6 separate regions of the Homo sapiens genome follow, and regions 1, 2, 3, 4 and 6 are each linked to region 5. The links come from fine-mapping of genetic effects on gene expression. A gene starts in region 5. Each other region holds a variant in brackets. All regions are shown on one strand. Distances are between the middles of the regions.

The links. PIP is the estimated chance that this variant, and not a neighbour inherited with it, causes the effect.
Region 1: its variant is fine-mapped to the expression of ACTR3-AS1 in blood mononuclear cells (TOPMed, PIP 0.92).
Region 2: its variant is fine-mapped to the expression of ACTR3-AS1 in T cells (TOPMed, PIP above 0.99). The same link has a PIP of 0.9 or more in lung.
Region 3: its variant is fine-mapped to the expression of ACTR3-AS1 in Th1 cells (Schmiedel 2018, PIP 0.95).
Region 4: its variant is fine-mapped to the expression of ACTR3-AS1 in follicular helper T cells (Schmiedel 2018, PIP 0.95).
Region 6: its variant is fine-mapped to the expression of ACTR3-AS1 in lymphoblastoid cells (GEUVADIS, PIP 0.95).

Annotation. Positions count from the first base shown.
Region 1 is chr2:113,844,695-113,849,768 of GRCh38, reverse strand. The region is part of intron 2 of ACTR3-AS1 (ACTR3 antisense RNA 1); the gene reads left to right. It overlaps LOC124906165 (small nucleolar RNA U13), which reads left to right and starts at 1,533; the gene lies at 1,533-1,636. The variant C/A (reference allele first, on the strand shown) is at 2,374.
Region 2 is chr2:113,836,701-113,841,774 of GRCh38, reverse strand. The region is part of intron 3 of ACTR3-AS1 (ACTR3 antisense RNA 1); the gene reads left to right. Among named protein-coding and RNA genes, the nearest start is that of ACTR3, 51 kb to the left of the region's middle. The variant AG/G (reference allele first, on the strand shown) is at 2,164.
Region 3 is chr2:113,909,213-113,914,286 of GRCh38, reverse strand. It overlaps ACTR3 (actin related protein 3), which reads right to left. Exons shown (of 12, transcript NM_005721.5): 2 at 1,060-1,115. Among named protein-coding and RNA genes, the nearest start is that of ACTR3-AS1, 21 kb to the right of the region's middle. The variant G/AG (reference allele first, on the strand shown) is at 2,868.
Region 4 is chr2:113,867,206-113,872,279 of GRCh38, reverse strand. All of the region lies in intron 1 of ACTR3-AS1 (ACTR3 antisense RNA 1), which reads left to right. Among named protein-coding and RNA genes, the nearest start is that of ACTR3, 20 kb to the left of the region's middle. The variant CAA/A (reference allele first, on the strand shown) is at 2,137.
Region 5 is chr2:113,888,678-113,893,751 of GRCh38, reverse strand. ACTR3-AS1 (ACTR3 antisense RNA 1) reads left to right here and starts at 2,760. Exons shown (of 5, transcript NR_110174.1): 1 at 2,760-2,859. It overlaps ACTR3 (actin related protein 3), which reads right to left and starts at 3,663. Exons shown (of 12, transcript NM_005721.5): 1 at 3,429-3,663. The coding sequence starts at 3,472. LOC124906071 (a long non-coding RNA gene) reads left to right here and starts at 3,985. Exons shown (of 3, transcript XR_007087205.1): 1 at 3,985-5,074. RefSeq lists enhancers at 2,723-2,902, 2,953-3,002, 3,085-3,740, 3,773-3,862, 3,983-4,292 and silencers at 3,133-3,392, 3,633-3,692.
Region 6 is chr2:113,920,238-113,925,311 of GRCh38, reverse strand. All of the region lies in intron 3 of ACTR3 (actin related protein 3), which reads right to left. Among named protein-coding and RNA genes, the nearest start is that of ACTR3-AS1, 32 kb to the right of the region's middle. The variant C/A (reference allele first, on the strand shown) is at 1,962.

The DNA.
Region 1 (5,074 bases), 44 kb after region 5:
TATTGGCCAGGCTGGTCTCAAACTCCTGACCTCGTGATCCACCCACCTCAGCCTCCCAAAGTGCTGGGATTACAGGCGTGAGCCACCATGCCCGGCCCTTATTTCACTTTTCTAAGCATCATTTTCTCATCTCTAAAATTAAGATAAAAAGAAAAATACTACCCATATATGACTATTATGAGGATTGAATGAGAAAATGATATTAAAGACAGACCACAAAACAAAAATGAGACATTCTCTTCCTGCTTTTACTCTATGTACATACATCTGTGTGTGTATTCCTTTACCATCTCTCTATATTTCACTATGCAAACCATGGTGATATATGTGATAAAGCAGTACCTGCAAGAAGTTCCTGTGAAGCTGTAGTTACATATGTAACAAAGGAGGACTACACATAATTAGAATATCAAGGTACAAAACTGTGGACTGCAGATCAGTGGTTGTCAGCCTGCTTTCAGCCAGAACGCACCTGAGTAATGGTGATTCACAAGGACACACTCCCCTTTTAAGCCTGGTTTCTGGTGTGTCAACACATGCCCTATTATTCTTACTCACCAGGATTGAAAGTGAGTAAGTGTAGTGTTAGGGTAGCAGTAGCTCTGAAATCAGTCATTTTTTTTTGAAAAAAAAATTACATTATTAGCAAATCTCATCACTTTCCCTGCTAGCAGGCACAATGATTTGGCTGATGTTGAGAAACTGTCAGAAAAGGGCCAGAAACTAAAATGTCTGCAAGGCCAGGCTGATAAATGAGTGAAGTGAACTGAATAGGAGAACCCACAGGAAGCCATTAGGAAGACCTTGGTGCACAAGAGTACACGTACACACACAAACACACACACACCCACACACCTCTAAACGTTCACATGCTCACCAGCTCCAGCACATCACAGGTCCAGTAATGCCAGCTCCTCTAGTGTCTCAAAAAGCCAGAAGTGGCTCACGCCTGTAATCCCAGCACTCTGGGAGGCAGAGGCAGGCGGATCACAAGGTCAGGAGATCGAGAACATCCTGGCTAACACGGTCAAACCCCATCTTTCCTAAAAATACAAAAAGTTAGCCAGGCGTGGTGGTGGGCACCTGTAGTCCCAGCTACTCGGGAGGCTGAGGCAGGAGAATGGCGTGAACCCGGGAGACAGAGCTTGCAGTGAGCCGAGATCATGCCACTGCACTCCAGCCTGGGGGACAGAGAGAGACTCCATCTCAAAAACAAACAAACAAAAAAACAAAAAAAAAAAACAGCCAGAAATCTGGAATTTTATGTGAAATCTCTGGATTTTATTCAAATCATTTTAAAACAGTACAAGACAAGTCAAACACGTTCACCATTTACAAGACCTATGGGCTATTAGTCTGTAACTAAACTTCTTCAGACCAAATGTCTTTGATTCCATACTCTTGTCAGCAAAATCACTGAGCATGCAATCTAGAATATAATTTATAAATTATAAGCAAGTACTAAAAATCTGTAAATTAAATACAAATAATGCCTTTTTTCTCTTAGGAAGAAAGCAAACATAAATATGTTGATGCTTTTGTAGTTCATAAGCATGATGATTAGGTGTTCACATTCAAGTGTGGGATGTGCCATCCTCAAACCTTGTCATGATGTCAACATTTTGCCCATCTGACATGAAAATAAATAGCAGATAAATAGATGTTCTCACATTTCCCTTCGACACTCTCATGAATCTCTGTGGGTGTGCAGCGCCGTGGAGGCCACCACTTGGACCCGGAAGCCTGTAGGGATTGGAAGACAGGGGGACCTAAAGAAGTAAAAGTCAGTCCATTTCTCCTGCTCTTCCACTCCTGACACTCAAATTCTCAATTCCTCTCTCAAAGCAGCCACTATAAAGATTTGTGTTTTTTTTTTCCTTTCTGCATGTATTTTTTGTTTTCATTAATTTATTCTAAAGAAACGGTTTTCAGCACCTGGGGGCAAATATGGCTGCCCACATGGGACTTTACATTCTGTTAGGGGAGACAACTAATAAAAAACTAAATATGAAATAATGAAAAAAATAATAAACATGAAATACGGTGGTGCACATCTGTAATCCCAACATGTTGGGAGATCGTGGTGGGTGAATCACTTGAGCCCAGGAGTTTGAGACCAGCTTGGGCAACAAAACAAAACCTTATCCTTACTTAAAAAAAAAAAAATGAGGCCAGCAACAGCAACAATAGCAATGATTCCCTTTCTTGTGTCTGTGTTCCTTTGCTCTGTAACTCTGAGTATACTTTCCACTTTGGCTCTGACCTTGACCATGTGACTTGCTTTGACCAACGAAATATGACACAGTAGAGGCTTGAAGAGTCCTTGTGGTTTGGGCTCTTGGACCCCCGCTGTCATGTGATGAACTAGGCTCA[C/A]CTTCTTGATGAGGAGGGAAACATAGTCCAGTCATCTCATCACTGCAGCCAACACCAAGACACGTGTCAGGCATTTGAGTGAGGTCATCTGGAACCAGTCAGCCCCAGCTAAACTGCCAACTGACCATGGATGCATGAGTGAGCCTAGCTAAGATCAGCCAGAAGAACCGCCTAGCAAAATTGTGAACTAAATAGATGGTTGTTTTAAGCCACTGGGATTTGAGTTGGTTTGTTATGCAGCACAAGGTAATTTATACAAGCTGCAGCATGAATCAGATACCATGCTGGGATCTCTCTTTACCATCATCCTGGGGCTGTCCTCTGCTTTTTTTCCTGTATTGGATCTCATGTTTCTAGTAATCCACATTTTCCTCTTGCTTGATTTCCTTCAGTGACTTCCCAAGGAAGAGTACATGAGCAGTAAATTAATTGTATGAAATCTTGCATGTCTGAAAATGTCTTTTTTTTTTTAATTTTTTTTCGATTCTTGTGTTTAAGTGCTAGTTTGGTTGGAAGTAGAATTTTAGATCGTTAATTATTTTCTCTTAACATTTTGAAAACCTTTCTCCATTGCTTTGTAGCCAGTCCTCCTGTTCACAAGTTAAAAGTCTATGCCAAAAGATGATGAGACCACCACTTAATATCTGAAATAAAAGGACAAAGCTGAATTTACTCCTTGCTCTAGTGAGAGCTATGATGGTCAGAAACTGTCTTTCCATGTGGAGCAGACTACTACGGTTTTGAGGAAGCATGAGTTCAGGGAGTTCAGAGACTTCAGTAGGATGTCATCATTTGCAGAATCACAGTTCCTTAGGGGAGGGGAAACTTTATTGATCGTTCACCACTCAAAGGTGTTTTTACAGGAGTGAATCCATCTATGACTGGCTGTTTTTCAGAAACAAAGACCTGATTCTGATGTGTTGGTTTGTAAAAGTGTGTACATTGAGGGGAATTGTGTTGATTGATTACATGGGTTTAAAACCAGTTTTTGATAGCTACTTCTTATTATGACTACAGAACAACTGCCTTTCCCTAAGTTTTGGGGAACATTTTTATTCTCATAAATCTCTGATCCTGTGTATATGACCTGTATATTTTTCCCCTTTCTACAATCTTGCAGGATCTTCTCTTTGTCTTCAATGTTTGAAATTTCACAATGTGTGCATTAGCCTAAGACTGTATTCACTTAATACATTTTTCTGTCTGGAAATTCAGATTATTAACTTCTCTTCATTTTTTTCTTTTGGATGCTCTATTAGTCCATTTTCCTGCTGCTGATAAAGACATACTCGAGACTGGGCAATTTACAAAAGAAAGAGGTTTAATTGGACATACAGTCCACATGGCTAAGGAGGCCTCACAATCATGGCAGAAAGTAAGGAGGAGCAAGTCACATCTTACATGGATGGCAGCAGGCAAAAAAAAGAGCTTGTGCAGATAAACTCTCGTTTTTTAAAACCATGAGATCTCATGAGACCCATCCGCTGTCACAAGAACAGCACAAGAAAGACCCACCCCCATGATTCAGCCATCTCCCACCGGGTCCCTCCCACAACACATGGGAATTATGGGAGCTACAAGATGAGATTTGGGTATGGACACAGATGCTAACACCCTTGACCAATTTCCTAATTGTCTGACATTTGTATCTCCTGTTTTCCATTCCCTTTTCTTTTTGCTGGAAAAATTCTCAACTTTACATTCTGACCTTTCTATTGAAAATATTAATTTCTAGTTGGGTGGATTGGCTCACATCTATTATCCCAGCACTTTGGGAGGCGGTGGCTGTAGGATCACTTGAGCCCAGGAGTTTGACACCAACTAAGGCAACATAGTAAGACTCATTTCTACAAAACGTAAAAGAAATTAGGCAGGCATAGTGGCATGCACTTGTAGTCCCAGCTACTCAGGGAGCTTAGGTGGGAGGATTGCTTAAACCCAGAAGGTCCAGGCTGCAGTGGGCTATGATCATGCCATTGCACTCCAGCCTGGGTGACTAAGAAGGATCCTGTCTCAAAAAAAGAAACAAAGAAAGAAAATAAAATATTCCTTTCAGCTATGTATTTAATTTTCAAGATCTTCTGTATGTGTTTTGTTCCATTTATTTATTTGCTTGTTTATTTTTGCGTAGAATTCTTTTCTTGTCTTGTGGTTATAGTAGCTTCTCTTTGTGAGAGGTTTGACTTTTATTTTATCTTCATTTCCTTGACATTACTTTTTTTCTTTATTCATTTTCTATCTTCCAAGTTAAAGGCTTTCCTCACATATCTTATCATCTTTGTATCTGATAATATTTAAGAGTGAGATACTGAAACACTGGCTGGAAGCCCTGAGAATATGAGAGCTGGGCTGGTCTGATGTGGGTTTCACTGTAAGAGCATCACGGTGGGTTGGGTCTACTGAGGGAACTTCCAATGTCAATATCTTTCCAAGGTCAGGTCTTTCATCATGGACCAAGCATATTTCCCAGAGAAGACTCCATGTCCTGCCTGGAGGGTGAAGGTCTAACTTTCAGTGTTCTTGGCCCAGAGAAGGAAAAGATGGATATGTATTGGGTATCCCAGAAGCTAATATGCATGAATTCACTTAATCCACTATTTTTAGTACAATTCTCTCACACTCAACTGCACTGGTGTTCTCCCAGTGTAGAACCATCTATTTTACCCCATTCTGGAAATAAACTTCACCCTTTTGCCAGTTA
Region 2 (5,074 bases), 52 kb after region 5:
AGATCGCGCCACTGCATTCCAGCCTGGGTGACAAAGCAAGACTCCATCTGAAAAAAAAAAAGTTTACAAAAATTGACTATGTCTTATGTCTCAAAGTGAGTCAACAAACAACACAGTCATTATTATATAGACCATATTCCCTGATCACAATATAATAAAGTTACAAATCAGGAGCAAAAGGATAGTTAACCCCTCTGTGTGTTAACTCTTCTTTACTCTTCCTCTATAAAAAGGAACTAGCATTTCCCAGCTCCCTTGGTCTCTGGTAACCTGGTAGGCTCTGCAATGGGAAGCACTGACTGCAACCTGGGGAGTCACAGGGGGTAAAGGAAAGATGTTCCCCACTTCCTGTGGGGGGCGCGAGGAGAGGATTCCTTACAGAGAAATTTATATCCCAAAAAGCAAGTTCTAGTTTTGAGCCTCCTCCTCATTTTGCTGACTTCTTTGCACTTTGTTCACCAATCTAACTTTTTTCCTTTCTTTCGCCATTTCTGTATAATTCCTTGATTTTTTATTTATTTATATATATATATATTTTTTGAGGTGGAGTTTCGCTCTTGTCACCCAGGCTGGAGTGCAATGGCACGATCCCGGCTTACTGCAACCTCTGCCTCCCAGGTTCAAGCGATTCTCCTGTCTCAGCCTCCTGAGGAGCTGGGATTACAGGCACCCGCCACTACACCCGGCTAATTTTTGGTATTTTTAGTAGAGACAGGGTTTCACCATGTTAGCCAGGCTGGTCTCGAACTCCTGACCTCAGGTGATCTGCCCACCACGGCCTCCCAAAGTGCTGAGATTACAGGCATAAGCCACTGCTCTGGGCCTCTGATTTTTATACCTCTGTAATGCCCTCTTGAATCCCTTCTCCTCTTTCTATTTTCGTTGTGACTAGTCCTCTGGCCGCTCACCTGGAAAGGCAGAGGAGAGGGTTGTAACTCTGGGAGTTGAATTATAACTAATCTTCTAATGATGGTGTTTAACAAAAGCCATGTTAAAGGCAAAGTGCTTCTGTTTCGAAAAATACTCTCAAACCCAGTTTTCTCTTGGCCCTCACACCACCTCAGCAGCAATCAACAACAAAGAAGAAGACTTCTTTGCCTAAATATGCGGGGAATTTCCCGACTCACATAGCAGCAGACACCAGCTGGATGTCCTCCAATTCAGTTCCGACACTGTCTACCTGGAGATAGCATCAGATTCTATCGGCTTGGGGCTTAGTCCCCAAAACTGCCCATTCCACAGACACCCATTGCAGATGTGGGCCTCTGGGACTTCCGACCAACCAGCTTCAAGCTGGGGTTCCTACACCTTCTCTTTGCGTTCAGTTAATTTGCTAGAGCAGCTCACAGAACTCAGGAAAAAAGTTTACTGGTTTGTTATAAAGGGCATTACAAAGGATACAGACGGAGAGATGCACAGGGTGAGGTATGGGGGAAGAGGCGCGGAACTCCCATCCCCTCCCTTGGCGGTCACCATCCAGGAACCTCCGTGTGTTCAGCTATCTGGAAGCTGCCTGAATCCAGTCCTCTTGGGTTTTTGTGGAAGATTCATGATATCAGCATTTCTTCCCCCGGCTTATAGGGCAGGAGCATCTCTGGAGAGGATCTTAAGACCCGTAGTCAGAAAGGTGGGGTAAGACTAGAGTCCTGCCTTCCAGAAGGTGAAAGAAGGGCAGGAAAAGGTCAGAGAGATTCTGTTTTCTGAATCTGCTCCTGAGGCCTAACACACCCAACCTTATAACGAAAGGTTGTAACGAGGGCTCTGGGAGATATGGTCCAGGAACTGTGGACGGAAATGTGTGTGTGTGTGTGTGTGTGTGTGTGTGTGTGTGTGTGTGTGTGTGTATAAAATAACACCACAGCTTCCTAGCCAGAAAGAAGAGGAGGCCGACCTTGACTGTAATGTCTTAATGCTGTTAACACAACTGAGAAAAACAAGTGTCAATCAGATGGGGCATTGGTAACTGGAAAACAACAGCAAAGGCTAAGGCCAGCGGGTCTGGTCAAGTTAGTTCAGGATGCCTCTCTGTTGTGATTATTTTGTTGGATTTAACTTCTCTAGAACCAAACGTAACCGGTCTCTACATTTCTGGCAATCTCACACCGTTCCTTCAGTGATCCATGCTCGAAATGCATAAATGATCGCTGACTCTTCTTCCCCTGT[AG/G]TCCTCATTATCTACTTGATTGAGCCTTTTTGACGCTTACTCATTTTTTTTCTCTTCCCTCCTCCCAGCCAACCATAATTTCAGGTGCTTATTAAAACACACTCAGATTAATCCCCCCAATTAGACCTCTTTGCCTCTTCCTGACCCTCCCAAGGGTCCTGCCCTACTATTAGGTAATGACATAAGACCCAGGAATAAGTATAAGGATTCCCACTGGCCTCCATCCTGGTATTTAAAACAGGCACAGTGCTCACACCTGTAATTCCAGCACTTTGGGAGGCCAAGGCTGGGGGACTGCTTGAGTCCAGGAGTTCAAGGCCAGCCTGGGCAACACAGGGAGAACTCCTCCCCCCACATCTCTACAAAAAAATAAATTGAAAACAAAAAACAAAACTAGCCATTTGTAGTTCCCAACTACTTAGCAGGCTGAGGTGGGAGGATTGTTTGAGCCTGGGAGGTCAAGGCTGCAGTGAGCCATGATTGCACCACTGCACCCAGCCGGGTGAAAGAGTGAGACCCTGTCTTAAAAATAAATAAATTAATGAATTAAACAAAACAGGCCTCACTTTCCTCAGGGAACCCTGGATCCTCTCCCTACCCCGGACACAGTAGGTTCAGTTGGGTGAGTTCTCTGCTTTCCTCTAAACATGTTATGCTCACACTTGGCCCCCAGGGTTTGCACTCAGGGTGCCCAACTCACAGCCATACTGCAAAGTCCCATTTCCTCCTTGAGTCCTTTGCTGATATGCCCTGGTTTACACTGATTCCTACCCTGGCTTTCTTTAGACCCAAAGACATTTAGGCAAGGGCGGATGGGCCATGTTGCTAAGGAGGCTTACACTTGAGGGCCCCTTAACTTGGACAGTCCCCTCCAAGACTGTGTGGCTAATTTTTATTTATAATTTTGTATTGTCTTAAGAAGATCATTTAAATTGTAAAAGCCTCAGGCCCCACGCAATCTGGGTCTGTCCCTGAATTTAGACATTAATTTATATTCTTTTCTTGAAGGATTTTCTAACTGGTTAATGTACAACAAACCTGTTTTCTCAACTTAGTATGAGCTTCTTTGCTAAATAATGCTGTGCAGTATACAGTGTGGTGGTTGAAAGGGTCATCAGTAGAGTCCCACAGACCTGTGTCCAAAGGTCACTTCTGCCGTTTCCTAGAGATGTGGCTTTTGGGCAAGTTTAAATTTTCATCTTCATTGATCTTCAGCTTCCTCAGCTGTTAAATGGGAATGATTATGGTGAAGCTTGCATTATGACTTTCAGAGGCCCAAGGAACTTTTGCCTTCATAGGCCCCTTTCTCCATGAAAATGATTACCAACTATATTTTGTGACTGTGTTGGTAAAAAGGCTAATATAATTCAACAGGGATTCTGTTCTTTTTTTTTCCTTTCTGATGCTAAAATAAACAAAAACATTTTCATGAGCCCCTAATAGTGTCATGGACCCTTGACATAGTGCCTAGTGAGCCTAATGGATAAGTTGACCCTGATTATAGAGCACACAGAGAAGCCTGGTGAATAATAAATGAGACAGTGTACATACAACATTCGACAAAGTGCTGGTGTGTATTAGGTGTTCAGCGGACGTCAGATATTACTTTTGTTATTATTATATGCCTCTTTCATATAGAAATGCTTACTAAATGGGATTGAATAGAGCTTATTTTACACTAAACCATTTGTAGCAATGGGAGTTTGGAAACAGATATCACTTTCTTATATATTATTATAGAATGTCAATTAAAGCTTTTCTGCTTCCCGACTTGGTACCCATCCTGTATTTACAAGCAGTTATTGCCTACGGACCAGGTGCTTAGATGTCTTGAATTTCAACAGAGCTCCTTAAACACTAGGTTCCCAAGCTCCACTCAAGAGATTCTGACTCAGTGGCTCTGGAGGGAGATCTGAAAATAAGTACTTAAAAAAATCTTACTCCCTTGGTGATTTTGAAGAGCAGCTAAATTTGTTGGAAACCACTATCATAGGCAAGCCGGTAGAGGTCAGTGACAGCTGAAAGAGTGGTATACGGGGGCATTAGCTTACCTCTTCCTAAACTCTGTAACACTCACCCTCAATCACTGCAAATAAAATGAAGTGTCTGCTATGCAAATGCAGCTTCCAGACAAGTCCCCTACGCACTCCCTTCCCAATCAGATTGTACCACTAGCCCCCCTTAGTAAAGTAATTTTGGAGCAGTCTGCAGAAGAGATATAATTCATATTGTAGCTTTCAAGGAACTTCCAGGATAGAGATCAACACAAAACCAAGGTAGCATACTTTTAAGATTTTAAGGACCAAATGGGTACTGTGGACATTGAGCACTCAGAAGAGGAAGCAATCATGATAGACTGAGTTGCTGGGGGAGCCTCAAAGTGAAGAGTGACTTATGTTGAATCATGAAAGAAGGTGGACCTGAGACATTGAGACACGAAAAAAAGAATAATAGACTGGGGGTTAGGGGATGCAGGAATAAAACTGGCTTTGCCACACGCTAGCTGGGTGTCTTTGAAAATGAAGATATGAAAAAATGTAAACCTGTCAACACCTATTCCAAACAAGAGAAACCTGGTATAAAAATGCTAATATTTGCAAAAATACAATTTAAGACAAAAAAGCATTATTAAGAATAAAGAGGGGGCCGTGTGCGGTGGCTCACACCTGTAATCCCAGCACTTTGGGAGGCCGAGGCGGGCAGATCACAAGGTCAAGAGATCGAGATCATCCTGGCTAATATGGTGAAACCCTGTCTCTACTAAAAATACAAAAAATTAGCCGTGCCTGTAGTCCCAGCTACTTGGGAGGCTGAGGCAGGAGAATTGTTTGAACCCAGGAGGCGGAGGTTGCAATGAGCCAAGATTGCGCCACTGCGCTCCAGCCTGGGCAACAGAGCGAGACTCCGTCT
Region 3 (5,074 bases), 21 kb before region 5:
ACTACACAAATGACAAAACAGTTGACCTCTTGTGTCCAATGAGTGCTCAAGTGATACTAAAGATCCAGTTTTTGGCAAAGCCTAACATCTTATTCTCAACTTCATTGATTCTGAAACATACACTGCTTTCATTACTCTCTACATATTCATTTTTCCATTTTCTTATTTTCATAATGAATAACAATGAAATACAAAAAATTCAGTCACATAAATAAGATTGTGAAAAATCAGTGACACTCTCAAAATTAAAATGTCTAGGAGAACCACTAAGCAACGGCTCAAAAGGTTTGTCACTTGGTATGCAAAAGTTTTAATTTGGCTGTAAGACAAATAGATCAGAAGTGTTACTATATTATGTACAAAAAACGTGAACTGTTTGCAAGTCAAAAGTGTAAAAGTACGTTAATCAAGGAACAGACCTATGCTAACAAACGAGCACTAACAAACCAATGTCAGAATATTTTTTAAAAACTACTGAAAGTTAATGGTCAGCTTAAGCAAGATTAACAAAAATAGGATAAAACAAAAATACTCTAAAGACATACAACAGTATGGTTATGGGATATTAGAAAACAGCTGAGGTCAACATCTCTAAAGGTGAGATAGTGAGATATTGTCCTTCCATCCATATTTTGAAACATGGGCACTTAGTGAGGACGTCAACAGATACGGGCCCTACAAACAGTAGTCATATCCACAAACCAAAGGACAGTCTTCATAGGTATATGATGGGGAATGGACTACTTGATAATTAGTTATACCCCCATACTGTTAACTGCAATATCACCCTAAAAATTGGGGTACTGTTTCATTATCAGCTAATTTCTTTTTTTCTTTAAAAAGAGGTATTTAGTAGACATGGCAAATGGGGAGCTAAACATAAAGCTGAAATGAATAGTCAGACATACAAAAATGAGGCCACACTTAGAACCTGGCAAATCATGTTTTTAAAAGGACTAAATCTTTTAGGATTTCAGAACTGATTACTTCTTTTACTTAAATTATTAGGGAAGGGGATCTTTTAAATCAGCTCATTTGTGGCTTAAAAGAAATACTTACAGGAAGGGATGATAAACTGTGGTTCTGTATTTCCAGCATATCCTAGTTTTGTATACCTGCAAAACAAAATAATTTATAAAGATTTCACTAATATTTTAGCAATTATACATTTCTTTCTTAGAATTTCATTTGTTATGAAGTGAGATTCCATCGTAGGTAAATAATATACCAAATTCCATAGTTTCACTTCATTTAACCCCTACTTTCACAATTCTATCAAAATTATAAATGCACAGAGCTTCTGAAAAGAAATTCCACTTCAAGAAATTGATCCTTCAGGAATATATGTGAAATAATACACAATCAAGGTCATTAGCTACAATCTTGCTTCTAACAGCAAAAGACTGGAAATAACCTAAATATCAATCAAACTGGAAACTATTGAAATATGCTAAGTTTATACTATGGAATATTATGCAGCTACAAAAAATAGAATGAGGAAGCTCTTAGTATAGTGATAGGAAACAATTCCCAAAATATATTACTTATTGAACAAAGATACAGAACAATGTATCAAGTATGGTATATCTGTATAAAACTAATGGGGAGGAGTAAAAACATATGAAATATTTTGTATAGGCACAACGTATCTCTGGAAGACTACACAAGAATAATTTTGGTTGTCTCCAAAAAAGGGAACTGGGGCATGATGAACAGAAATGAGAAGGAGATTTGTTTTCATTGTACATTGTTTCATACCATTCAAATTAATTACTATTCAAAAATAAATATAAGATTTAATGTTTTGTCACAGTAGACTTGGCCTACATTCTTCTAACAAAATAACAACATAAATAAGGATTAGAAATTATAAAAGCTGAGCTCTGACAAGCAGTATGTGGGGGCTACTTAGGAGATAGTGGGGCATTTTTTAGCTATGTGGGAAAAGCTATTAACTATAAGCAGGCTTTAAAGAGAATGTAACATTTTATATTATTCCATATTCAAACTCACTGATAAATAGCAGACAGGTAATTGCTGTGACATTCTTGGACTCTAATATCTGAAGAATCTTTTTTCTAAGATAAAATGAAAAAAAAAAATCTGCTGGGGGCCTGACGTGGTGGCTCACACCTGTAACACTAGCACTTTGGGAAGCTGAGGTGGGTGGATCACCTGAGGTCAGGAGTTCAAGACCAGCCTGACCAACACGGTGAAACACCCTCGCTACTAAAACTATAGAAATTAGGCTGGGAGCAGTGGCTCATGCCTATAATCCCAGCACTTTGGGAGGCTGAGGCAGGTGGATTACGGGACCAGGACAGGAGTTCGAGACCAGCCTAACCAACATGGTGAAACCCCCAACTCTACTAAAAATACAAAATTAGCCAGGCATGGTGGTGGGCACCTGTAATACCAGCTACTTGGGAGGCTGAGGCAAGAGAATCGCTTGAACTTAGGAGGCGGAGGTTGCAGTGAGCCGAGATCACACCACTGCACTCCAGCCTGGGAGACAGAGTGAGACTCTGTCTCAAAAAATAAACAAATAAATAAACAATATCTTTGGGGAATGTTTTAGCCTCCAAATTAAGTTCAAGAACTGAGTGTGCCAAGGCCGAGGAGAGAGGATCACTTGAGGTGAGGAATTCGAGACCAGCCTGACCAACATGGTGAAACCCCATCTCTATTAAAATACAAAAATTAGCAGGGTGTGGTGGTGGGCGCCTGTAATCCCAGCTACTCAGGAGAGTGAGGCAGGAGAATTGCCTGAACCTGTGAGACAGAGGTTGCAGTGAGGCAATATCATGCCACTGTATTCCAGCCTGGGTGATAAAGCAAGACTTCGTCTCAAAAAAAAAAAAAAAAAA[G/AG]TGTGCCAAATAAGAGTAAATCATTAAAAATAAGGGGAAACCATAAACTGTTGAAAAAAGTGATATTGGTCTACTGACTAACCTCTTCAACAGTTCCCCACTGTTCACGTTTTAAAAAAAAAAAACGAAAAACAAAAAATTTCCTTGTAATGTATACAAAAAAGTCCCTTTATTATTTGGCCTCTGACCTCTCCCAGCTGCCCTGACACCACATTAAACTCCCTAACCATAAAAACAGCTGACAATTTCTCAACACTCCAACTCATTTCATGCCACCAAGCCACTATTAACACTGCTCCTACTACATTAGATGCTCTCCTTCCCATCCAGTATAGTTTAATACCTTACCAGTGGACAAATGGAAATGACTAGTCTACTATACCAAAATAAAAACTTGTTTAATACAAAGCAGTCTGAAACTGTTGAACCAAAACACTCTACCTAAAAGCCTACTACTATCTAACCAATAGTGAATTATTAATACCTAACTATTCCTTGGTCTGATCCCACATATTAATCTCTCTACTTTTATTCTTATTTGTCACCACCACAATTCAAGCTGCTATACCCAACAATACCCTAAAACAGGACAAAACAGTATTTCCAATTCTAGAACTCCTACAAAGGACAAGAGAATAATATACCTAAAAACAATGCTCTAATTGTTTTTTCCTCTGCTTACACACCACCACCACAGCAATCAACACAGAAGACTTCTGGGACCAAATGTGTGGAGGGTTTCTCCCAACAACAAAAAAGCAATCAATTCTGCAGTGGACACTAGCTGGGTGTTCTGTAATTCAATTCCAATACTATCTACCTGGAGATAACATCAGAATCCACAGGTTGAAGGCTCAGTCCCCAAGACTGCCCCCCTTCTTCAGACACCAGTCACAAGCCCCAGACTCTGGAACTTCTGACTCACCTGCTTGAAGATGAGTTTCCCATACTCCCTCCTTGAGTTCAATTAATTTGCTAAAGTGGCTCACAAAACTCAGAGAAACACATTAGCTGGTTTATTATAAATAATACTGCAAAGCATACAGATAAAGACACACACAGGGTGAGGTGTGTAGGAAGAGACGTAGACGTTCCACACCCTCTCGAGCGTACCACCCTCCCAGAACCTCCACGTGTTCAGCTATCTGAAAGCTCTCCAAACTCTGTCCTTTGGGTTTTTATAGAGGCTTCAGTGCATAGACAGGATTGATTAAACCATTGGCCACTGGTGATCAACTTAACCTTCAGCCCCAGTGGTTGGAGGGTGGGGCTGGAAGTCCCAACTCACTAATCATGCCTTGGTCTTTCAAGTGACCAGCCCCATCTTGAAGTTACCTAGGGGCTGCCAGCCAACAGTCATCCCATTAGCACTCAAACAGACGTCACTTTGGAGTTTCTAAGAATTATAGGAGTTGTATGTCCGAATATGGAGTTGAAGACCAAATACATATTTCCCAATTTCAAACGGCCTAACTCAAAAATCTTCAAATGATGCTCTACTGGCTACAAGATTAAGTACAAGCTTGTTTCCATTTCTGTAAAATTGTTCATTGTAAAATTGTTCCTAAAGGCCCATCCACATGAACAATTATATCATTCTCTGATTCCTTCAGCTGAATATTAAAGTTCTCCATAATCATTTCCAATTTTTATAAGCATCTGCTATCACTTGCTTACATAAACCCAGCTCTAAGCATACTACACCTGCTACTCTTTTTTCCCTTATATCTTGTCTATTCCCTATTCCCCCCTCACATATTATCTACGCTCACACTGCACCCTCCCAAAAAAAAAAAAACAACAACAACAACAAAAAAACTTTTATCACAACTTAAAACTTCTCCAGGAAGTCTTTCCTGATCATTTTAACTATCAGGCATCCTTTCTTTTGACTAATCTTCATTTCAACCATAAGCCACACATATTTTTATGTGTGTAAATATCGTCTCCTAAATATTACAGTAATATTTGAAGTACAGACCACATTACAGTAGAAATTCCCTTAAGAAACATTCATTTAACCAGCTTACCAGACTGATCAAGACCCCATTCTTGGCCAAAATCAAATTTCCTAGGCTGAGTATATTCATCAATGAATTACTTTCAAAATAAACACCAAAAGGATCAAATGAACCTAATACAAAACAGTCAATATGTAATCAAAACAAAAATGCTCTTCTCAAAACACAAGAATAAATGCATACAGT
Region 4 (5,074 bases), 21 kb after region 5:
TAACTTGCTTACCTCTGTAAATATCGAATCTCCAAATAAGGCCACATTCTGAGGTACTGGGGATTACGACTCCAACATATCTTTTTGCGGGGAGGAGAACACAGCTCAGGCCATAACGAGCCATTTGTAGAGATTAGCTCACTATCTGTTTCTGACTCTTCTTTCCATACCTGCCTACCCATTTCTCTCCACACTGTCTCTTGACAGAACCTGTGGTCTGGAAAACATCTGGTCAACTTAGTCACACTGAGGAGTAAGTGGCCAAAGCTGCCTTTGTCTATCTGTAGTATACAGTGGTTCAAAAGGATAAAAATAATGATAGGAAACTGTTAAATTTTATATGTTATCCCTCCTCGAAATACTGCATTTTAACAAATCACAAAGAATTATACCCATTTCTCACTATAAGTCACAAAACTTGGAGTTATGAGTAAAAACTTGCTAAGCAACCCTTGATTTTCATTGTAATTAACAGAAAAACTGCATTGTCTATTAACAGAAAGATAAAATTGAGTCTCAGATTGGTGATACAATGATACGCACTCATAAGTCTCTACTTAAGATGACCATAAACCAGGTGCAGTGGTTCATGCCTGTAATTTCAGCACTTTGGGAGGCCAAAGTAGGAGGATTGCTTGAGCCCAGAAGTTTGAGACCAGCCTGGAAAACATAGTAAGACCCTGTCTCTATAAAACATAAAAAAATGAGCTGGGTGTGGTGATGCCTGTGTGGGGGCCCTAGTTACTGGGGAGGCTACAGTAGGAGAGCCTGGGAGATCCAGGCTGCAGTAAACCGTGATCAAGCCGCTGTAATCCAGCCTAGGCGACAGAGTGAGACTCTATCTAAAAAAAAAAAAAATCTATTACTATAAATTTCTTCTTTACCAGCAGTAAAAGATATAAGCATTCCTGAAGGAGCTGCAAACATAGCTACTGACATATCATCAGTATTGTTTCATAAGTGGTTCAGAGGCTATGAAATTAGCAATGCATTTAAACCACTTGAGCCAACCATGACTTCCTCAGCGGTCCAGCCCCTCCAAAAATGCACGCAGGAGCCTTTTCTGTACCAAATAAAAGATTAATTTTTTAATCTCAAGAATGTGGGATGTGATAGGATAGCTATCATATTTTTAAAAAACTTAAATGGACTCTAAGAACTAAAAACCATGATGGAAAACTTCACTTCAGGTATTATGATCTAAAACATAGTCAATTCTCATTATTCATGGTAGTTATAGTTTATAAAGTTGCTGTAAACATTGAATTAGTGAATAATGAACCATTGCTCTTAAGGGAAATACAGGGTTAGGTTTCTGCAAGCTTCTGGTTATAACATTTTTGCCAACCAAACATATAACCTTGTTTTATGTGTGTTTCTGTTTAAAGACACTTTAGCATATATTGTTGATTTGTTAACATTGAACTCACAGCTAATAGCGCCATAACTCATGCTTGAGTGAAACTGATCCAACACACGTATTTTCTCCATAAGGCACATCATAGCCTTCTTGTGCTTAAGAACCCTACGCAGCACTTAGCACTACACTTGTTGGCCATTTTAAACAGCAAAATCACCACCAAAAAGAACGAAAGTGTGAAAAACATGGTACTAAATAAACAGAAAAAGGACACACATATAGTAAGAAAGCTGAAGTGGGAAGGCAGAGTGTTGCTTTGTTGAAATTCAGCTGGGAATGTGTGCAATCAACAACTCAATTTTTTTTTCTTTTCTGCACATGTCTGCCAATGATCACAAAAGTGCTGTGGGTATTGATTCGGGAGTTATAAATAACTTTTAATGAGTAGGAGAATTTGCAGATATGAAAGCCATGAGAAATGAGGTTTGACTGTACGTCTCCCTGGCTTCTGTTGCCCATAAGCCAAAAATATATATTTTTTAAAAAAACAGGGCTTTTTTTGCCTAGCAAAGTGGGTTACATTTACACTCCATATTTGTAATTTGTCATGTGAGACCTCAAAGGATGTTGGATAACTGTAATTAATGTCCAAGCCCTGCTGCTGATTATCTGAGTGAACTTGGTCAAAGGGACTGGTTTTCCATGGGTCTCCTCTTATTATTCATAAACTGATAGTCTTGGACTACTATACACACACACACACACACACACACACA[CAA/A]ATATACACAAATTATCATAAAACTTTTTAAATCCAACACTCATATCCAACACTCACATTTTAAAATACTCAAAAATCAGGAAAATATATAAGGAATAGTACTCTAGACAGTGATATGATAGGAAATTTTTTACTGTATTTCCTTTTATACCTTTTGGTTTTTGAACTATGAAAATGTATTACCTTTTTAGAAATTATTATTATTATTATTATTTATCTTGAGACAGAGTCTCCCTCTGTCACCCAGGATGGACAACAGTGGCACAATCTTGGCTCACTGCAACCTCTGCCTCCCGGGTTTAAGCGATTCTCCTGCCTCAGCCTCCCGGGTAGTTGGAATTACAGGTGCCTGCCACCACACCTGGGTAATTTTTGTATTTTTAGTAGGGATGGGGTTTTGCCATGTTGACCAGGCTGGTTTCAAACTCCTGGCCTCAGGTGATCCACCTGCCGCAGCTTCCCAGAGTGCTAGGATTACAGGCATGAGCCACCATGCTCAGCCCCTTTTTAGACATTAATAAGGGGAAGAAGAAAGAGGAGGATGAGGAGGAGTCAAGAGGAGGAGGAAAAAGAAGGAGAGGGTGAAGAAAGAAAACCCCTAATAGGCATTTTGCCTTCTGTATGGTAGGGAGCAGGGATATTAAGCTCAGATTATTCTGTGACCATTAGACCACAAGGGTTTACATACTTTCATATCTTTCTATAAATCATGTACTTACAAATATCTTTCACATATCTTCTTTATAAATCATGTATTTGTTAAGTACTTACTCCAGGGACAGTTGTTAGTATGTTATTCTATTTTTTTCCTTATGCCTGTGAAGTAAGTATTCGGTTGAATCATATGAAAATGCAAATATTCAACCATTTTTGACCTGCAAAAATGTCCATTTCTTATACTCAACCCAACGCTAATGTCCCCATTTTAATAATGAAGAACCCAGGATTCACAAAAGCTGTGCCGCTGCTCAGTGGTGCCACAGTTGGCAAAAGAGACTCTTGACCAGAATCCAGATCTCCTGTTTCTACTAAATAGTGGGATGACTTTCACAGTAAATGCATAACTTTCTTTACCTATGTGTGAACTTAAATGCCACCAGGTGGCATTTCTTTAATCTTGACATCAATTAAGTCAAGATTTTCTCCCATCACCACTTGCCCTCCATTCCCAATAATTGTGTCTGGGAGGTGGCACACGCCTGGCTGCCCTGTTCTCGCCCACACCTTCCTTCTGCTGCTGCTGCTGTGCCTGGCAGGCCTCTAGAACTCTGGTATCTTTTTGTCTACCTCAGCTTTGGAGGCACACATCCTGACTGCTCCTTTTCTTTTCTTTTCTTCTCTTTTTTTTGTTTTTTTTTTGAGATGGAGTTTCACTATTGTTGCCCAGGCTGGAGTGCATGTGCCACCGTGCCCGGCCAATTTTTTGTATTTTTAGTAGAGACAGGGTTTCTGCATGTTGGTCAGGCTTGTCTTGAACTCCTGACCTCAGGTGATCCGCCCACCTCGGTCTCCCAAAGTGCTGGGATTACAGGCGTGAGCCACGGCACCCGGCCTCCTGACTGCTCTTAAGCAGAAGGTCTACCTCACAGACCACTTGACCACTTCCTCTGAAATCATGAAAACTGTCTTGGATTCAGACCGTTATCTAGTCTCAGGAAGGAGAAAAGTCCAGCTCCGACATACTGTACACACTCCAAACCTCGAGTCTCTTCAAGGCAGTGACTTTGAAATTTCAAAACCTTCATTTTTGGCTTTGGAAAGACTCTTAAACACCTCTTTGCTTATGGTTTCAAAGTCCATTTTAAAATGCAAAAAAAAAAAAAAAATCAGAAAGCAATTGTGTTTACTTTTGTTCCTTTCTTGAGGAAATAATGGCAAAATAACTGTTGCCTGAATAACGAGACTGAGCGGACGGGTAGGGATAATGGAAGAGAACAGATGGGAGAAGAGGAAAAGGGAAGTTAATGTTCAATATTCTGTCCTGCCACATTCATTGGTTGTTCTTTTCTCCAACACAGCTTTTCAGGTAGTTCTCAAATTTGAGAATGCCCATGAAATTGTTCAGGGGAGTTGCTTAAAATGCACAGACCCTGCTTTATTTGGAGAATACTCTGGACCAATGAAAACAGGCTAATCTATAAGGCTATGTTAACGTTCAATTGTGAACAAGTCCAAATTGAAGTAAGAGCATACCATCCTACAAAATAGAAGGAAATATATTAGGTGAATGAAACTGAAATTTATTTTTCAACCAAGCGTTGAATAGCAATCTGGTGCTGTTTGAATAGCAACGCCCATTGTGACTTCGGATCCATGGGCTTTTTGATTTGCCTGTGAAGCAGTTCTTTTAAACACAGGTGGGATGCTGGGCTATTATTTAACCAAGACTCTTGGACAATAGAACCACATCAAAACAGCATGACAGTTCAGAGGACAGTCAAGCAAAATGTGCTTCTGTGCTATATCTAAATTGCAAAGGAGAGGAAGGACTCGGGAAAACAGTGTAATTAGAGGCAATTTAAGCTCCCTAGTAGGAGGAAAAGCAAAATAGTCTATATTTAAAATTGTAGTGGGAACTTGAAGTTCTAAGGTCATAAAGGTAAGGCTCAGGGAACAAGGAGAAGAGAGGGCTAAAAGGAAGAAGGCACAGTGTGTACTCAGACACCTTAAAGAACCAGAGAAACAGTTCTGGGAGAAAAGAATAGTAACATAACATTTCTCTTAAGCAGTATAATGAGAGATATCAGGCTGGAGAGAAAAAGAATAGGAAATGTGGGGAGAGGTTTGACAAGGTAGGAAGAACTGAGATGAAAGCAGATTGAATATTTGTGAGAAAGAAAATAAAATTTGATTTTTTAGGTAGAAATATTTTTCTAGTGCAAAGTCTCCAGGCATGCAAGTCATGTTTGATTTAGATTATACAGCTTTATTGGGCT
Region 5 (5,074 bases):
TTACCAGGGGAAAAAAAAAGACATAAAAGGGAAAAGGAAATTCACAATGCAGCTCTGTAACCAAGCTACGATATAACAAGGAGTTAATAAGGAGCGCCCTCATTTGGCTTGAATGATGGAGAAACTTGAGTAAAAACATGCATTTAAAAAAAACCTTTAAGGCTGGGCGCGGTGGCTCACACCTGTAATCCCAGCACTTTGGGAGGTTGAGGCGGGTGGATCACGAGGTCAGGAGATGGAGACCATCCTGGTCAACATGGTGAAACCCCATCTCTACTAAAAAGAGAAAAATTAACTGGGTGTGGTGGCATGTGCCTGTAGTCCCAGCTACTCGGGAGGCTGAGGCAGGAGAATAGCTTGAACCTGGGAGGTGGAGGTTGCAGTGAGCCGAGATCGTGCCACTGCACTCCAGCCCAGCGACAGGGCAAGACTCCATCTCAAAACAAACAAACAAACAAACAAAAAAACAAAAAGCAAAAAACACATTTAAAAAACGATCCCTTCCACCGCCCAGAAAAAAAAAAACCTTAGGATGATCATACAAGTGTTACAATGTTTTTTTAAAAAATGTTTGTGAATGCCTTTTAAAGAAAATGCTTTTCTCACCACTAATAGCAGGTTTGAGTTCTGTTATTTAGTTTTCAAGCCACCAATGGGAATCTATGTGCCCCAACTGTATTTTACAATGCTTTCCAATACAGACCAAAAAAGTGTGTAGATAAGGGTATCAATGTGAATGAAGCATTTCTTTTCAAATTCTTTTCAAAATAAGTATTCTCTTTTATGACCTGAATCTAGGTGATTCATATGTTGAGTTTTGCTGGACGATCCCTAAAAGTTTTGGGCTTAAGTTTCAAGTTTCCTAACTCTTAACAGCTTTCCTATCTAAGACGATCAAGTTTTACAGATGGCCACTTTTTTTCAGCCACCTTTCCCCTAATTTATATAATGAATGAAATGAGCAACCTGATTCAGGTTATAACTTTTTACTTAAACTAAGTGAGTAATTGTAATTTAGAGACCTCAGAGCTGAATGCATTCTCTAAAGCATAAAAAAAATTAGACAAATTACAGGTGCACAATTTGCATTCGGGGACCACAGAATTTTGAAATGTAAAAGCTCCCTGTTAAGGCCATACTTAGAGATGTTTATCTCAGGGTCCTCAACCTCAAGGACTTATCCTCCATGTGCAAATAAAGCTGAAGGTGTAACTTCCCAGGAGGCACCACTGGAAACTTGTAAGACCAAAAAGGCTTTTGAGAACCAAAATAACTGAAACTCTAAAGGGGGAATTTCAGATTGTGACAAATGGTAAAAGAGAGTGAGGTGGCAAGGGGACTCCTAATCAGTTCCATTCAAATCATCAATGTGCAGTTAATAACCTCTCCTTATTGGAGAAACCAATGTAATAACTTAAAAATACACTATTGTGATAATCGTAATTTTAAAACAGAAATAGCCTAGGTTAAATTGAACCCCTCTTCCCGATCCTACTGGTCATTCAGCATGTTTTAAATTCAAGGTTGCCCTTTAGGAAAGGAGGTCACTTAAGGACAGTTTATCTCAATGAAACATCTTGTATACTAATTCGAAACTATTTCAAAAGGGGGAAAATGGAGATTAGAAAAGTAACATACTACTTGAGATGTTACCATATTATTTCTCAGGGCCACAATTATTTACACTATTTTTTTGAAAACGCAGTAATTTCTAAAGCATTAATTATGTAGCAATATTCGTCACTTTAACAAAACACATTTGAAAAGTCCTATCCTACTGACTCAGGCCAAATCTAATTTTAAAACTGAACCTAGACATAAAAATACTCACCAATTAGACTAAGAAGGGAGAAATAAAAAAAATTATTGGTTCAGAGAAATGAGACTGAATTAAGGAAAAACTTTTAAATAAAGTGTTCATCAAAAAAATACATAGAAGTTCCAAGGCTAGTGTTTTCCTAGGAGAATATTAAGAAGTTGGTGGTTTCTCTCTACCTAACTGGGATTTTAGAAACTGCCACACTAGCTAGTTATGAGAATGAAGATTAAAGAAATTTCACATAAAGAGTGAAGGACACACAATCTTTTAAGTAACAATAATGAAATCAATAATTATAATTAATAATAAAAAAAAAAGCCTGACAGTCCACCTCTTACTGACTTCCCCCTCAAAAAAAAAAAACTGGGAGTGTTCTGGGAATTGGAGAGATGTCATCAGCACAGAAAAAAAAACCACTTTCCTATATGTCATCCTGAAGCAGTGATTCTACATAAAAATAAGGGTAGTCTATTCTCTATGCAGTTATGAGTGTGGTACAACTCTCTAAAACGTCTATTAATACAAAATGAACGACCACACTTTAAAGCCACTCTACATTTTCGCAAACTACCCTACATATCTACGAGTAACTATTTGCAACTTAAACACCCTCCTATATACCTCTATACCTTCCTGCTTCCTTCAAGATACCATCACAGAATGAACGAATACAACTTAAATTAGTTTATTTTCCAGGGTGCTTCCTTTCCCCCACTCCATGAAACATAAGTACATTTTTTTAAGTCATATAAATGGACACCAAGCACCGGTAATTCAGTCTCTTTAAAACCTGCTTAAAAGTTCTAGTAAGATGTGCTCAGGTTGGAAACTAAAAACTACCTTATAAGGGTATAAAAGACTGAAAGCAGGAAGCGGCTTTGACAAAACTAAGGAAGTTGCAGCGCGCTTGCTCACTGGGGGACTTTTTTGAGGCTACAGAAGTAACACATGACATCTTTCTCCCTCGAATTAAAATGTGACTTGGTTCACCGGTTAAAACGCAGAGGGAGATGGAAATGACCAGGAGTCGAAAGGAGAAGGTGGGTGGTCAAATGAAAGCCCCACTGTAGGTTCCCATTTTCAGAGTCCGATTCTTCCCTTTCCCCACCCACACCCTGGGCAGAATGTTGTCACAGCGATCTTGTCAAACCTACCAGGAGCGCTTCTCTTTTCTAGCTCCCCTGCCAGGCCAGTCCCCGAGCTCGGCCCCTGGGTCCCCAAACCGACTGGCAAAAACGGGCGCGGAGGGAAAGGAAAGCCGGATGGGTCGGGCCCGGGGACCACCCCCAAGACGACCGTCCCCAGCGCCCTTTGGGCGGCGCTGCCCACCGTAGTGGGGGAAGGGCCGGGAGGGGTCGCGCGGAGAAAGCCGCTGGGAGGGTTGGGGGTTGAATCTCGGGCCCGCGCCCCCGCCCCAGTCCCAGGAGGGAGAAACGAGGGGACCCGCGAGGCCCTGGCTGCGGGCCCCACCCCTCGCTGGCCGGCGGGTCTAGGACTGACAGCCGGCGGCGGCACCTCGCCGCACCATTCATTTCCCGGCCTCCTCCCTCCCCCGCCATCTTCCTTCCTCCGCCTCAGTTTCCCCACCCCCGCCCGTAAGCCCCCTTACCCCGTGCCACAGTCCACCACACAGGCCGGCAGCCGTCCCGCCATCTTCCTCCTCGCCTGCTGCTGCTGCTGCCGCCGTCTGCTCCGTGCTGCTAGGGGCCAGAGATTGGCGGCGGGAGACAAGGGCTATCTGACCATCCACAGCTGGGCCGCCTTCACCGTCCGGGGGGTAGCCGGGAAGCCGAAGCAGTAGCAAGAAAGCAGCAGGCTCGGTCGGCGGCTATCACTTCCGCAACCCAGGCAGGCAGGCAGTCCCCGCCCTGCCCCGCCGCGGCCTCCTCCCCCTCTCTCTTCCCTCCTCCTCACTCCTGCCCCCACCCTACAACTTCTTCCCCTCACGCCGCCTTTCCCCGGGAAGCCAAGATGGCCGCCGGTGCCGACGCCCCGGCCAGGCCAGGCCCAGGCCCCCAGCGCTCCCCCTTCCGCTCCGAGCGGGAGGGGCTAGCGAGCATGCGCAATAAGGTACGTTCGCCTGCCTGGGCTCCGATCCTGAAGTTGGTGAAATCCACTGCGGGTTTTCCAGGAGTGTAGAGGCGGAGAAGTCTATCCGAGCTTCCAGTTCTGCTTCTGAAGCTGGAAGGGGCTTTTCGGTTGTAACCCTTGGGTTAGTTTCAGTTACTTCTTTGCTAGGTTGAGGAAAGGGTGGAAGCGCCTCCTGCAGCCACGAATATCCTCCAGTGCCTGAGAGAAAACGGCCTAATCGAAAACGTCCGCGGCATACATCCATTCTTAAAACTTGAGTGGCTGCTTTTCTGGGTGGAAAAGAGCGGTATCAGACAGGGTGAGCAGTCGGGGAACGGATGAACAAAGACTTGCACCGTGGCCCTGATGCCTTTGTTCCGAGTTCTATTCAGTTGTACTTGTGCGTTGTTACAGGACTTTAGAATGCAGCCCTGCCCCCCAACCCCCACCTCCCAGGGCCGACCTGTGCTCCTAGGAAGGCAAACCTCCCAGGAATATATTCTGCATAACTATACAAATAGGCCTTTATTCAAGGCTTTTGGATTATGACAAAGATTACCCTCAGGAGTAGTAAGATTCTACTAGCAGGATAATAGAAAGGATTAAGGCTCCCCTCCAAAGAAAATTTTTTTAAGTTAGAAACGGAGGCGAGCCGCAGTGGGTCATGCCTGTAATTTCAATGCTTTGGAAGGCCGAGGTGGGAGGATAGGATAGCTTGAGGCTAGGAGTTCGAGACCAGCCTGGGCAACATGGGGAGACCCCCCCCCATCCCTCCAAAAAAGAAAAGAAAACTGGAAAGCCTTAAAGAAACCTTTCAAACTTTAGTGTGTATCAGAATTACCTGAAAGGTTTGTTAAAACAGATTGCTGGGCCATACCCCCAGAATTCTCTGACTGGGCTATCGGAAATAATGCCTGAGAATGTGCATATCTAATAAGTTCCTAGTTCCACTTTAGGACCCTAGAAGGTTAGTATCTTTCCTCTCTACCAGGCTTATCTTAGGATGAACCGTTCGGGGTTTGCTGATGTGAAGCTAAAACAAAAATATTCTTTAAAAGGAGGGATGTCTTATTCAGTCCATAAGATCATCTAATGTATTAAGCTGGCTTGGGGGATGAATCGGGTGTTTCATTCATTCATTTGACAGGTAAGCATTGCTTACCTACTCTATTATGACGGGGTCTG
Region 6 (5,074 bases), 32 kb before region 5:
AGACAAGAGAATCACTTGAACCCAGGAGGCGGAGGTTGCAGTGAGCCAAGATCACTCCATTGCACTCCAGCCTGGGCGATAGAGTAAGACTCTGTCTCCAAAAAAAAAAAAAAAAAAGGTGGCACGATGGCTCACGCCTGTAATCCCAGCACTTTGGGAGGTTGAGGTGGGTGGATCATTTGAGGTCAGGAGTTCAAGACCAGCCTGGCCAATATGGTGAAGCCCCATCTCCACTGAAAATACAAAAATCAGTCAGGCATGGTGGCAGGCACCTATAATCCCAGCTACTGGGGAGGCTGAGGCAGGAGAATCTCTTGAACCCAGGAGTCAGAGGTTGCAGTAGGCCAAGATCACATCACTCCACTCCAGCCTGGGCAACAGAGTAACACTCTGTCAAATAAATAAATAAATAAATAAATAAATAGTTCCTTGAATAAGATGACCACCTTGTTTTGTGAGAGAAAAGGTTTCGCTGAGGAGGTCATATCTAAGCCGGGTCTTAACTCAGTTCTGCTTTCTGGCTTTTTTTTTGGCAGGGGAATGAGAGGTATGGAGGAACTTGTGGAGAACAGAAAAAGATGTATAGAAAGACAAACACTGCATGGTATACAAAAACAAAACTGAAGTTATCAATGAGAAATTTATGTGCCAAAAGATTTGAAGGTGCGTAGAGAGATATACCAGTTCTAGATCAAAGGGACTAGATTCTCAAAAATTTTCCTTTTATTTAGGTTTTATTCTATAAGAAATAAAACAGCAGAGAAATTTTTAAGCAGGGGAATAAGAACAGCTTTAATTTTTAGGAAGACTATTATAGCAGCATTGGGAAAGCTCAAATGAAGCTTAACAGAACCAAGTGAGAACAAGAGTACCAATAGTGGTATGGACGACAAGGGGCCACATTGAAGATTTCTCAGTCAATAAGAATAAGAAAGGGCTGGGCATGGTGGCTCATACCTATAATCCCAGCACTTTGGGAGGCCAAGGTGAGAGGATGGCTTGAGCCCAGGAGTTTGAGACCAGCCTAGGCAACGTAGTGAGACCCTGTCTCTACAAAAAAAAAAAAAATTTTTAATTAGCCAGGTGTGGTGGCACACACCTGTAGTCCCCGCTACTCAGGAGGCTGAGGTGGAAGAATCACTTGAGCCCAGAGGGTCAAAGTGATTGTGGAGGGTCTTGCAGTGAGCCAAGATCTCACCACTGCATTCCAACATGGGCAACAGGGCAAGACACCTGTCTCAAAAAAAAAAAAAAAAAGAGAAAAAAGTCAGAAGATGCCAACAGGTTTCCAGCTTTGAAGTTAGGATGGACCAGATCCATTAATCAAAACATAAAAATTGTGTTTTGTCTGATCTTGGAATAAACAAGAGTGGAGTATATATAATACGTTTTGTTTTAGATATACTAAAACTCAAGAGCCAGGAAATAGGTAGGTGAAGATGTAGTCAAGGAACTGAAAGTAGAGATCTGGTCTGTGGTTGCAGACAAAGGAATGGAGGAGATCACCTAGAGAAAGTCTTTAATGAAAGAATAAAACATTGAGTCACCCCATTTTATGAGAAGAGAAAAAAAAAAAAAAGGAGAACTGAAAGCAGTGCCTAGAGAAACCAACGTTTGAGTAGTGGGTAAAGGAGAAATCAGTGACAATAGAAACAACAAATAAAAACAAACAAAACAGGCCGGGCACAGTGGCTCATGCCTGTAATCCCAGCACTTTGGGAGGCCGAGGCAGGCAGATCACGAGGTCAGGAGATTGAGACCATCCTGGCTAACACGGTGAAACCCCATCTCTACTAAAAATATAAAAAATTAGCCGGGCACGGTGGTGGGCGCCTGTAGTCCCAACTACTTGGGAGGCTGAGGCAGGAGAATGGCATGAACCCGAAGTCGAGGCTGCAGTGAGCTGAGATCGCGCCACTGCACTCTAGCCTGGGCGACAGAGCCAGGCTCCGTCTCAAAAA[C/A]AAACAAACAAACAAACAAACAAACAAACAAATATTCCATGTTAGGAAGATAACCATTAGAGTAATCCTGCAAAAGAAAGACAAATCAAGAAGGATGAAAACTGTTACATATAATTGGATTTAACAAAGAGCATATCAAATATCTTGAGACTCACTAAGAAGTGTCGTTTTAAAAGGAAAGAGAAAAATAGCTAAATTGCTGAGGACAGAAGGTAGGAATAAAGATTGAGAGAAGTTTTGTTCTGGTTTGTTAGTAGCACTTAGAAGACTTAAAAATGCGTTTAAAATGAGTGGACAGAATCAGTGGAAAGGAACTCTGGCCTCTCGACTGACTGACTTCATCACTTTCAGTGGTATCTCTTTTCCATTTTGGCCACAGTATAGATCTTATATCATCATCACTATCACCTCTCAATCGCTGAAATGCAGGTATACCCTTCTCTGATCACAACCTCTTATTATTCTAGCATACTCAACCACCTCAAGAGATCTCTTCTGAACACCAATTAAGACTTTTGGTCCACTGGTTGCTTTAATTATTCCCTAGCCATCAATATACACAGTCTAGATTTTGACCCATCACCTTTATTTCACATGTTCTTTTTTCATCCTGTCTACCAAAATCCAACCCAGCATATATCCCTAACATAAACTTGCCTATATCCAGAATGCTGATTATACCGCAGAAGCATTTGCACTAGGGTGCTAAAGACTAAGAATTCATAGTCATTATTCTCAAATGGACCTAACCTTGCCTGGCAAGCCTTTACTCTTCTACTCTGTTCCTCTTTACTCTTCACAATGACGAGTGTCAATGCCGCCCCTACCGCTAAGATTTCACCTTCTCCCCACATCCATGACCAGCAGATGATGCCACCACATATTTCGCAGAAGCAGCAGAAGCCAACAGTCAGGAATTCAAATCTGTAAAATGGATTCCATACTTAGCCTTTTTTCTCATTTACTTCCATTATAATGTAAGATATTCCGCATGTCAATTCAGTCATCTGTGTTCTGGATCTCATCCCTCCAGCTTTTTCAGAGACCTTGATTATACCTTATCTTTCCTGTTACTTTAATCTCTAATAGTTCTTTCATATTAGCATTCAGACATGTCTTCCATCTTAACGTTGAAATGTGTCTCTTCATCTCTCTCTCCCTCCCAATCACAATTGAAACTCAATGAACAGTACTCTTACTGTTACTTTTTTCCTGGCCTATCACTCAAAAGCCTACTTTCATCTAGCCCAACTACTCTTCTAAAACTATTCTCATTCAGGTTACAAATCACCACCTTGTAGCGAAAGACAGCAAATTATCTATGGGCTCTAGCTCATCTCAGCACCATTCTACAGTGTTTACCTCTACATATCTACCCATGCATTCTCAGTCTCTTTCGCAGACTTTTCCTCCTCTACTCAAACCTAACTGGCACACTGCTCTGTCTTAGTTCTCTTCCCCTGTGATATGTTCCCCTAGGTAATGTCAACCCGTCTAAGGTAACTGACACTTTCTGAATCTCTGTCTCCAGCTCTGCCTTGTTTCTTACCTCCAAAATCCACATATTTGACTCTAACAAAATCTCAGACGTCTCACAAGTACCTCAAACACAATGTGTTCAAAATTAAACTTATTTTCTCCTCTCTACACTACCCAGTCAAAAGTGTTTCTCCTTATGAAACAAGACCTCTAGCTCTCACCTTATACAAAAATCAACTCAAAATGAATTAAAGATTTAAATCTAAGACCCAAAACTATAAAAGTACTAGAAGAAAACTTAGGGGAAACCTCTCACAACATTGGTACGGGAAAAGATTTTACAAATAAGACCTCAGAAGCACAGGCAACAAAAGCAAAAATAGACAAATGGGATTATATTAAATTAAAATGCTTCTGTGAGGAAAACCATCAACAGAGGGAAAATACAAGTTATGGAATGGGTCAAAATGCCCGCAAACTGTACATCTGACAGAGGATTAACATCCAGAATATATAAGGAATTCAATTCAACAGCAAGAAAAAAAAAAAAAAACACTGATTTTTTTAAAAGGGCAAATAATCTAAATAGACATTTCTCAAAAGAAGTCACATCAACGGCCAACAAATACATGAAAAAAACGTCCAACATGACTAATCATCAGGAAAATGCAAATCAAAACCAGAAAGAAATACCGTCTCACCATAGTTAGAATGGCTATTACCCAAAAGACAAAAAAAATCACAAATGCTGGCAAGGATGTGCAGAAAAGGGAACTCATATATACTGTGGAGGGAATGTTAATAGGTAAAGCCACTATAAAGCATAGTACAGAGGCTCCTCAAAAAACCACAAATAGAACTACCATATGATCCAGCCATCCTACTATTGGGTATATACCCAAAGGAAAATAAATTACTATATCAAAGATACCTGCACCCTCATGTTTATTGCAGTACTCTTCACAATAGCCAAAATATGAAATTAACCTAAGTGTCCATACGGATATGTGTAGTATATATGCACAATACTATTCAACCATAAAAAAAGAGTGAAATCCTGTCATTCCTGGCAACACAGATGAGCCCAAAGGACATTAAGTGAAATAAGCCAGGGACTAAAAGATAAAAAATTGCATGTTCTCATTCATGTGCAAAAGCTAAAAAAATTGACTTCATGTAAGTAGAGAGTAGAAAAGTGGTTACTAGAGGCTGGAAAGGGTAGGGGAAAGAAGGGAATAGGGAGAGCTTGAATAAAGGATACAAAATTACAGCTGGATAGCAAGAATAAGTTCTAGTGTTCTATAGCACTATATGATGACTACAGTTAATTTATTATATATTTTCAGATAGTTAGAACAGAGAATTCTGAATATTCTCAACACAAAAAAATAAGTGTTTGAGGTGAATATGCTACTTACATTGACTTGATCACCACACACTGTACATATCAAAATATCACTACATACTCCATAAATATGTACAATTATTATATGTCAAGTAAAATTTTTTTAAAAGCCTGGCACAGTGGCTCATGCCTGTAATCCCACACTTTGAGAGAGGCCAACATGGGAGGGTCACTTGAGCCCAGGAGTTTGAGACGAGCATGGGCAACAGAAGGAGACCCTGTCTCTATA